2 separate regions of the Homo sapiens genome follow, and region 2 is linked to region 1. The links come from fine-mapping of genetic effects on gene expression. A gene starts in region 1. The other region holds a variant in brackets. All regions are shown on one strand. Distances are between the middles of the regions.

Region 1 (5,382 bases):
TGTGTTGCCCAGGCTGGTCTTAAACTCCTGGGCTCAAGAGATCCTCCCACCTAAGCCACCTGAGTAGCTGAGACTGTAGGTATGGGTAATTGCTTCTGGCTCACCATTAACTTTAGAATTAGAATTTTGCAGCTATGAATGGACCTAGAGGTTATCTAGTTCAAGCCCCTCATTTTATAGATAAGAAAATAGGTAAATCACTTACTTGTCTAAGGCTACAATGCACCTAGTGATAGACAGTAGGGACTAGAACTCATGAGTCCTGGGTCCCCAGCCACTTTTGTTACTACTGAACTCCAATACACTTGTATCCTTTAATTGGTGAATTTGGTTAAGGTCAACCCATGTTGGGTTCAGCCTCTAGATAAGCTTATCTCTTTGTACTTGAACACTGCACCTTTAATTCAGGCCATGCAAAACTATAACCTTGTAAACCAGAAGTTGAGATGGAGAACTGGCACAGATCCATTCTCCTACTGAAAAAACATGCTACACAGATGCTGGATAGTCATCTTTGTTTCCAAGGACAACACATCACTTCTCAGAGATAGCAATCCATTCTATATTTATTTGACAAACATTAATTTACATTCTCTATGCAACAGGCACTGTGTGTTTCATATCTTAGGGTCCCTGAACTTACACTGTTTAAGATGAAGGCAAATGTGAAACAAATAATAGTAGAAAGAGTTGAATAAGTATACATATCTTAAAAGCGTCAAGTTAAAAATGTCCTTCTTTGCATTGCAGTTTCTTGCAAAATTTGCTCTTTTAAAATATAACCAGGAAAGGGAGCAAGATGAGCATATAATGGAAAGTTGGTTACTCATAATTGCCAAGCTTTATTTGGCCCAGGCTTAACAGGTGTTTCTCCTGCCAGGTATACTGTTGTAACTAGAGGAAGTTGTTCTGGAGTTGGGAGAGCTGAAGTTTTGAAGTGGGGTAGGGAAAAGGAAAATATTCATTATGTTTATATTAGTATTTTTATTATTATAAAAGTAAAGCATTCTTAGAACATTCAAACTATACTTAAAGGTATAAATTGCAAAGGGAAAAGTTCTCTCTGTTCTGGATATACAATCAACAGTTTTCTGTTCTTTTTTCCAGAAATATTCTATGCATATAGGAACACATAGATGTGTATACATTTTTTCCACAAATGGTTTAAAATATTAAACATGCTTTTCTCCCAAATTAGCCTGTACATATTCACACATCAGTACACACTGATCTCATTTAAGAAAATTGGTGCATACCTTTGTATGCTTTTACCATAATTTAAGAAGAAGCTGACTACTTTTTTTAAGTCAGAAATACTGGGAAGGGGAAGAGCATGGTGGTGGTGCACGCCTGTAATCCCAGAACTTTGGGAGGTCAAGGCGGGCGGATTGCTTGAGCTCAAGAGTAGGAGACCAGCGTCGGTAACATGATGAAACCCCGTTTCTACAAAAATTAGCCAGGCGTGGTGGTGCGCACCCGTAGTCCCAGCTATTTAGGAGGCTGAGGTGGGAGGATGGCTTGAGCCCAGGAGAGAAGGTTGCAGTCAGCCGAGATGGCGCCACTGCACTCCAGCCTGGGCGACAGGCCCTGTCTCGGAAAAAAAAAAAAAAATACTGCGAAGGTAAAATAAACATATATTTAACATATTATATATTTGAAACAGCCATTGTCACAGTGGATAACAGTCACAGGTGTATAATAGTGAAAGTTCGTTAAATTAATATTTCTTCGTGTTTGTTGACTCGTACAACCCATTAGTGTTTTGATTGGTTGCATTTGTCTTTTCATTCATAACTGCTGAAAACTTTCTCCCTAACTAACCTGAGGAAGTGGTAAAAGTCAAACTTTTTTCCGGTATGAGGCCACCCTTGGTGCTGTCTGTAATTATCTAGACATGGCAGCCAGGATCCAACAGCTTTGCGTTTTAACTCATATGGTCTTTCCTGGCGAATTCCTTGCCCCCCTCTGCTCCCCACTTAGCTTGACTTCCTGTCTTTTATCATCCGCAATCTATCAAGATCCTACAATGTGCTCAGTGTAGGGCGGAACAAATCACTGTTTTACCTCACAATTTAAGGAAGGCAGGGGGCTAGTTTTTAAGATAAAAATCTTTTAACAAAACATAAACTCCCCAAAATTTCCTACAAGCCAAACAGCATTGTCACACCCTCACAAGCTCTTATTACTTACACAGCCAAATGACTCAAGATTACTAACGTTTCTATTCATAAGGAGTTTGCTGGCCTCAGATCAACACAATCAAGCCCTCCCCCACCTTCCTTCTCTCTCCCCTGGGAGACTGACGTTTGGAACTCACGCCGCACCAGGTTTTTTCAGAATGAAGACGATGTGTGTTCGCTGCTGGAACTGTTTGTCCTGGGATTTTATAAACACCTCCCCCACTCCTTTTTAAAGTTCTGTTTTTGAGGTGGGGGAAAAGGAGGTCGGAATCTGTTTAGCCTTTAAATCTCCCAATTCAGAAATATATTCTAAGAATTTAATAGAAAAAGACCAAGGGCTGTGTCTGCTATTTACTGCAGAACTGGGTATTCCTATCAGAAATCACCTACATGTGTCACCAAGATCAGAGACAAGGATGAGGGAAACAGCATGATCCCTGCCTTCTGGAGGGTTACAGTTGAAGCTTCCGCTGCTTCTGCACTTGACCTCAAAACAAACAAAAAACCCACCGCAAACAACAACAAAAAAATCCAGGCCCACCTTTCCCCTTGGATCTTTCACTTGACAGCTTTCTCGGCCCAAAATAAGGCACCCTACATCTGAATGCATCCCTAAGGCCTTACCGCACCCAGTCCAGGAGGCAGTCCTGGCAGCTGCCCTCCACCGAACTCCGCGCTTTTTCACACACGCTCGTGGAAGGAGAAAACCGCTCAAACAACTGGACTCGGCCCGTTTCCTTTCGGTAACCTCCCCACAGCCCAACACGCTGTCCCCAGACGCTGCCCGCTCCCACCCCGGTCCCTTCGTGATCCTCCCGCGCGCGGGCGGGGCGGGGGAGGAGCGCGGGGGCGGCCGGGAGGGGCGCGGCCGGGAGGGGGCGCCGCCGGGGCGCGAGCCAGACACAGAGGGCCGCGGAGGACGCGGGAGGCGAGCGGGGAGCCGAGGTCGTGCTAGGATCCCGCGCCCAGGGGCCTTCGTCGAGGGAGGGGCGTGGCGGCGGCAGCAGGAGGGCAGCAGGAGCTGTCAGGCTGGCGGTTCCGCGCCGCGGCTCCTTCTGCGCTGCGCCCGCAACTCTGGGCTGAGAACTTCTCCCGCCGGCCCACTCGCCCTCGCCCCGCGCACTCGGCGCCAGGCGACTCCCGCACCTTGTACCCGGCCCGCCCCGCCTCCTCCTTCGGCCGCACCACTCCCCCTGCCGGCCGCGCTTCTCTCCGTTACAAAGGAGGGAAAATGAGCCGGGCGGCGGCGGCGCGGCGCGGGGCCACCACGGCGGCGGCGAGCGCGGCCGCCCCCGGCACCACGTAAACCGCCCCCGCCCGCCCAGCTGCGGCCCAGGCCGGAGCGGAGCCTGCCGTCCTCCGCCTGCCTGCTGCTCGCCTCCCTAGACCTGCGCGTCGCTTCCCGGCCCGCCGAGGAGGTGGTGGAGGAGGAGGCGCCGCTTTCCCCGCGGCGCGCGCCCTCGCCGTTGTCTGAGCTGTGCCTGGACCAGTTTGGGGAAGTTGTCGGGGCTCCGCGTCGCCCAGATGTGTGACCTCATTGAGCCGCAGCCGGCCGAGAAGATCGGCAAGATGAAGAAGTTGCGGAGAACTTTGTCGGAGAGTTTCAGTCGCATTGGTGAGTAGCGCGCTGCCCCCGGCCCCCCCAGCGCCCGCTCCCCTCGGCCTGCGCCCCCGCCGCGTTCCTGGCACCAGCCATGCAGCTGCCAGCGGGGCTGGCGTGGGGTGCGTTGTAGGCGGGGATCGAGGGCACAGTGCTAGGGACCCGGGGGAGGGCAAGGACGTAAAGGAAAGAGACCCCTCTTCCTCAGGATCTGGGGGTTCATTTGTAGATTCTCTCAAGCCTACAATATGGGTTCTCCCCTCCTCCGCCACTAGTGCTCGCCCTTTCGCGCGCGTGGGGGACGGGCGAGGGGACCCCTCGGCCCCCACCGCGCAAGGGGCTGCGCGGCTGCTTGGGCCACTTGTTATTTTTTGCGCACAGGCTTGGATATTGGGCGTTTAGTCAGTAATTTAGCTTTGGAAATTGGTGAAACGTTAGACTGTGCCCTGGTATTGTTTAACGTATCCAACCTAAAGGGAAGTGGGACAGTTACCTTGGGACCTATTGTTCGGTACTTCGGGTCCTGGAAAGCGAGATTTGGGTGTTCAGTCTCGAGGTCTCTGAATCTTCCCGCTGCTGGAGAGAAATGCGCGCTGTGGAGTTGTCTGGACATTTAGGAATGTCTCTCGAACTTGTTCCATTTAATAGAGCTCAGGGGCTGTTGTCTTTAAACCAAACAACAAACCAACTGACCAACAGTGTTTAGGACAGTGACGAATAAATGCATGTCACAGGTTGTAATAGGGTGACAGCAGTATCACGTGGAATGGGTTTGTTAGATTTTGAGTACTGGGCATAGAAAACCCCTTTTAACCTGAAGAGTTAGCTGCCTCCCCTACTGTCACAACTTTCACTAATAACATGTAACTGCCCTGAGCAAGAGAATGCTATAGACACAAAAGATAACCCCTGCGAGTCCCTAGGAAGCTGCCTAGTCTTTGTTTCACTTGTTTTAAATGTCATCCATGTTAACGAAAGTGTTAATGGAAATTAAACATAAAGGTACTTAATTCCTTAAAATAAAACCCTGGGATGCACATGAGTGTTACAGATATCCTTCCACCCATTCATTGTAAGATATGCAAACTTTCTTCAAGTGAGAGAGTACAATGGATCGAAATTTAGCCAAGTTTTTTTTTTTTTTTTTGTCTTTCGACTTAAAATTTTGTGTTGGTATGCAAAATCTTTCCCCAGATGACTGTAAAGTTATGGTATGAAACCAATCTTTAGTTTTATTTATTGCATGTATTGGATATTAATTTCACTCTTCAGAATTAGGGATACATGTGGAGAGTCCCTGCATTAAGATGAAGTTTGAAGCCAAGAAGAGTGTGAGAGAGGGAAATGTTGAGTCGTGTGCATTATTAACGAGGATGTTTCAACCCTGACCCAAACCGTCGCAGAGGCGGGTTCTGGAGTCCATTAAGCCGTGTTCTAAAACACATTAACTATATATTTACTAATGCTAATGATTCTGCTGGAGCCCCTCCAGTTTTGTGTTAAATAATTCATTGCAATTGAGTCTCAGTAAGAAACCAAGGACATTAATCTAAAAGTTCCTTATATTTAAATAATTTCAAGGTTTTGATCGACAATCAGTAA
Region 2 (5,382 bases), 27 kb before region 1:
CTGACTTCAAGTGATCCTTCCGCCTCAGCCTTCCAAAGTGCTGGGATTACAGGCGTGAGCCACTGTGCCTGGCCGGATCTGCTGGTATCTTAATCTTGGACTTTCCAGCCTCCAGAACTGTGAGAAATAGATACCTGTAGTTTTAGCCACCCAGTCTACGGTGTTGTTATAGCAGCCCAAATAGAATAAGACATGTTCTTAGTTCAGATACCAGCAGCTTTCCCCATATTTATCAAATGCAAGCAGTGAGTTCACCAACACTAGGGCCTTGGGCAAAGTTTGAAGTCTTTCTTTAACACCTTTCCATTTCCCTGTACATATCTGTCATCCCCTTCTTTTGTCTCTGTCCACCATTTTCCCTCCTCTCATGGGCTGTGGCTCTGGTGTCTGGGGCTCCTAAGTCCTATCATGGAACTCCATCCAGGGCAGCCCTCCCGTTTAACTGACCTTTTCCTTCTTTTTTCCGAATCTAAACTGCCTCCACTGTGCCACAGCTATTATGAGATAAGCTCAGTCATATTTTATGTCTAAATAGAAACCTGTTGATTAGGCCAGAGCACAAAATCTGGCCAGGATTTCAGGGTGAATGAGAACAGTGACTTCTAAGGTAGCTTGCCTTTTGCCTGATTCCAACCCAGCAAGCAATGCAGGGAATAGACAAGACATCAAGAATGCAAAGGAGTGGCCATGACTATCCATTACCTTACCAGTTCCCTATGTAGTGAAATTCAATGGAACTTCCTAACTGCAGTGAAACAATGCTAGGTCAGAAGAGCCCGAAATGTGGTTCACTGCCTTTGGTATGCACGGTAGGGAAAGGGGGCACATCACAACCTGTTAGGGAATGCCTGCTTCTCCACAGTTACTTAATACTATGTTCTTATGTTCTTAGTTTTTGGGTCTACAGAGGAATTTACCATAAAGCTAATAACATTTAAGCTTCAGGACTCCTCATTTCCCCAGGCCTCTGTGAGTGGTGGGAGTTGCTTGGAGTTGTAAAGTATTCCACGTGAGGAGGGGAAGCCAGCATGCAATTAGAAAACAGAATTGTATAGGCATTTCTGTTAAATTTCCTAGAGACCTCAGAAGAAAGAGACTAACTGATTTCTTTTCTCAATCTGAATTAATAATCAGTTTCATGCCTAATTGATATTTGTGGTTTAATTAATTTATGTATTTATTTATTTTGAAGTGGCTCATAACTGCATATGCACCAGGCCCCACTCCTGAGGTCTACCTGCCCCTTATTATCCTAGCTGGATTACAAAAGAATAGAATTTGTTGGAAATTGATGTGGGGGCTAGCAGCTGGTGCTGCATATTCTGTTTGCCCCTCCAGACCTACTCTTCGCTCTTCTCTCCCTAGTCTGTCGCCCAGGTGGCTACTCTCTGTGGATGCTTCCCTGGCTCCCTTGCCATCAGGTTGTGGTCCATCAGTGAGATCTGTATTTTTAGTAGAGACAGGGTTTCACCATATTGGCCAGATCATCTGCAGGGGATGGGAGGACTGGAGGAGAGTGTTGATTTCTCTGACAATGGGTTGGCAGCAGGGTGGGCCTCATGGGTGTGCAAACTATGGAGTCAATAGAACCCCATTCTTAAGAAGGGCCCTGTGCTTGGTTTAATGCTTTTCTGTCACGGTCTTAAATTCTTCATTTTATATTTTTAAAAAAATTTCAACTGTTATTTTAGATTCAGGGGGTACAGGTACAGGTTCATTATAAGGGTATATTGTGTGATGCTGAGGTATGTCATTTTATCTTTGAATGTGTGTTTTGTAAGTGAAATCAAAGGGAAAGTGGAGCATATATGTGAACAGAGGGGTTACATGAAATATATGTGTCTGCAATTTCCAGTTGCTCCGTTTGAATATAGTATTTACGGTGTCCCCACGATCATAGAATGCCTATGTACCCATGCACTACATAAGGAATTCAGGGAGACTCAAAGCAAGTACAAGGTCCAGCTGATAAAGCCCCGAGATGTCATGCTTTCTATTTCAACCACAACTTGCTTAAAATTCAGAAAAAAGGCAATGAAATTTGAGAAACACATACAACCAAGGAGCCTCATCATATCGTTTCTTTCTCATGTTACTTCTCTGTTACTTCCTAACCACTTACACTAAAAATGATGTCATAGAAGGAAAGGGGAAGATAGGGCAAGCCATAGTTCCTTTTCCTTTCAGTC[T/C]TTCCTTCCTCATCCGTAAGCTGAAAGTAGAGTGTTGGAATACTGTATGAGTATAAGAAAGTGAAATGAAACAGTCGAGTTAGTTTTGTGCACTATTTCCACTGTTTCACTAGGAACAAAATATGTATATATGTACAAACTATGAAATGTAAGTGTATAATTTTCATGATTCTGCATGATAGTTAAATGCCCTTATAATGGCATTTAAAATTGGCATTGCACAAGATAAATGGTAGAATTCAGGCTAATAATTTAAAGTTTTAATGTTTTCTTTTTTCTTTTTTTTGTTTTATATTTTTTCACCAGCAGTTTCAATGTTCTCTTTATTTAGAATAGTGTTAGATACAAAATTTTAGAAACATGACAAGTTGAGGAAAGAAAAAGAGACGGCAGAAGGAAAGCAAAACTTTATACTTTAGTACCTTTACCACACTTTTTTCTTGCTTTTTTCAACTTGCACTGGGCTGCTCAAATTATATAGTGGGCTTTGGTTAATAGTGACTCTTTCTTCCACCGAAGTCCACAATTCCTGATGGGTGGCCATGTCCTGCAGCTACAGGTCTCCCTGGGCTCCAGGAGTTGCCCCCTTTTCCTTTGTTCTTCAAGCCTACTCCTGGTAGCACTCCGTACTGTGGGTAGCACTCCTGAGGGTAGGTGGGGTGTGCGGGGGCGTCACCAGAGAAGGGAAGTAGATTTCACCTTCCCTTGTTATTTTCCTTTAACCTCTGTCCACATCTGTGTAAGTTATTCTTTCATTAGTCTCTCTTTTACACTGCTCTGTTTGTTTGTGTATATTTTATTATGGACAATTTCAAACATAAATAGTTAATAGTATAACAGACGTCCACGTACCCAGTATCTAGCTTCAACAATAATTTTTTCACCCCTTTGGAGTGTGTCATTTGCTTCCTGCTGGGATCTTGGCTGATAGAAGGCCTGCTTATGCATTTTGACTATTCATCATACCCCTGTCCTCAACAGGGACCAGCAACTTGACAGCTTGTTTCTAAAAAGAAATTAATGAACATTGACCTACAGATTAAAATGGCGGAAGTAGCCTTAAACATATTCCCTGCCTGTTCAGTGAAGCTTGGTTCCCTAACTTCCTCCTGGGCATCCAAGCTCATCTGAAACTATGTTTTGTTTTGTATGCAAAGCTACAAAAAGAGGGCATGCTTTGTACCCTCTAAAGTAAGTGACTCACATTAATTAACAGCATTTATTCCCACCAATTGATAAATGCTTTATCTTTTCACTTGTAGGAGAAAAGGAAACATGTAGGAAGAATTATTTTCTTTGTGAGGAGGTCCTCTTTGTGAGAGGACTGATTACATGGTCATAGATCAGCAGCATATTTGTCTTCCTCAATTTCATGAACATAATTTTGTCATTAATGAGATTTGCTAGTAAAGCAGAAATGTCATGTCTACAAGGATAGATTCACTCTTAGTATGAGACCCTCGCCACTTGTCTCATCAAAAATAATCATTTCGGGTTTAGTTTTTTTACTAGTAGACATAATAAAAGTAATATATTACTATTCCATAAATAGGCATTTGGAATTAGTCTCTTTTTCATCATATCCCATCAAGGATACCATAGAATTGTCCAAATCAATAGGAAAATAGAGAAGGAAGGGGTTGGGGAAAAAACTAATCTTTATTTTTTTGAGATGGAGTCTTGCTTTGTCACCCAGGCTGGAGTGCAGCGGCCCGATCTCAGCTCACTGCAACCTCCACCTCCTGGGTTCAAGCAATTCTCCTGCCTCAGCCTTCCAAGTAGCTGGGATTACAGGCATGTGCCACCACGTCCGGCTAAATTTTTCTGTATTCTTAGTAGAGACAGGGTTTCACCATATTGGCCAGGCTGGTCTCGAACTTCTGACTTTGTGATCTGCCCACCTTGGCCTCCTAAAGTGCTGGGATTACAGGCATGAGCCACCTCACCTGGCCAGAACTAATATTTATTGAATGCCTTCTTTGTGTTATAAATATTTATTGTCAATTTAATCCTCACAGTAATCCTAGGAGGTAGATGTTATTATTCCTGCATTATAGAGGAGGAAGGTGAAGCTCAAGGAGGTTAAATTGCTCCAAAGTCTACAGCTACATGATAATTACAAAAGCCACTATTTATGTTTTGCAGAGCTTGACCCTATGCAAAGCACTTTAGATCCATTAGGAAATTTTACCCTCCGTTGTAAATCACATTATGTCCATAATACAGATTAGGTGAGTGAAGCATCTTGTCCAGGGGCACATAGATATTAACTGGCAGTGTCAGAATTCTGAGTCAATTTTGTCTGACTCAAATCCTTGCTATTCTCACTCCCCTCTGCTGGTTCCCAAGGGAGATGGGTACAATTTCTGTTACAATTTCTTTTTCCATCTTGAACTTCTCTTCCCTTTTGCCAATGTTCATTCAATCATTCTGATCTTTCTCTTTGATAAAGGGCACAAAATCAAATGTGAGTAGACAGCTCCTTTGTCACCATATTGCATTGCATAGTCAATCTCAACAGTGGGTCTGTTCTTTCTTTGATCGTTTTCTTGTCTAATGTTTAATTTTCTCTGTTCATTGTCTCCAGATATTTTCACACATGCAGTCCTAAAATATCTTAAAAAGTAATATATTTTAAAATTGATGCATAAAATTTATCATTTTAATTTTACATTAAAATTTTATAATATAAAATTTTTTATATACAACTCTTTTACCAAGAGTTGTATATACTTACATATATATAATTTCTGATATAACTAATGACATCTAAAAAATAAATATCACATTATTCGTTGATATCTATACGGTGAGATCTAAATAGTATAGCAATTTGATGCCTTATCCTACTTTCTAATTTATTTTTTATTGTATGTATTTATGGTATATAGCATGATGTTTGGACATACATATATCCAGTGAAATGATTACTACAGTCAAACAAATTAACATATCCATCACCTTCCATAGTTACCTTTTGTGTGTGTGTGTTTGTTTGTGTGTGTGTTGTGTGTGTGATATGAGCACCTAAAATCTACTCTTAACAAATTATCAATGTATAATATTAAGTATAGCCATCAGGCTGTCCATTATATACTTTTAAAATATACATCATAAAGTTCTTCTTTACCTGCAGGACATTTTCTTTTGTTTATTTACTCCTTGAAATTATATTTCCATTCCACTTCCTACT

The links. PIP is the estimated chance that this variant, and not a neighbour inherited with it, causes the effect.
Region 2: its variant is the best candidate, but not a certain one, in a credible set for the expression of CDK14 in whole blood (TOPMed, PIP 0.67).

Annotation. Positions count from the first base shown.
Region 1 is chr7:90,592,924-90,598,305 of GRCh38, forward strand. CDK14 (cyclin dependent kinase 14) reads left to right here and starts at 3,398. Exons shown (of 15, transcript NM_001287135.2): 1 at 3,398-3,795. The coding sequence starts at 3,705. RefSeq lists silencers at 3,006-3,205, 3,226-3,535, 3,726-3,925, 3,986-4,035.
Region 2 is chr7:90,566,301-90,571,682 of GRCh38, forward strand. No RefSeq gene overlaps it. Among named protein-coding and RNA genes, the nearest start is that of CDK14, 27 kb to the right of the region's middle. The variant T/C (reference allele first, on the strand shown) is at 2,190.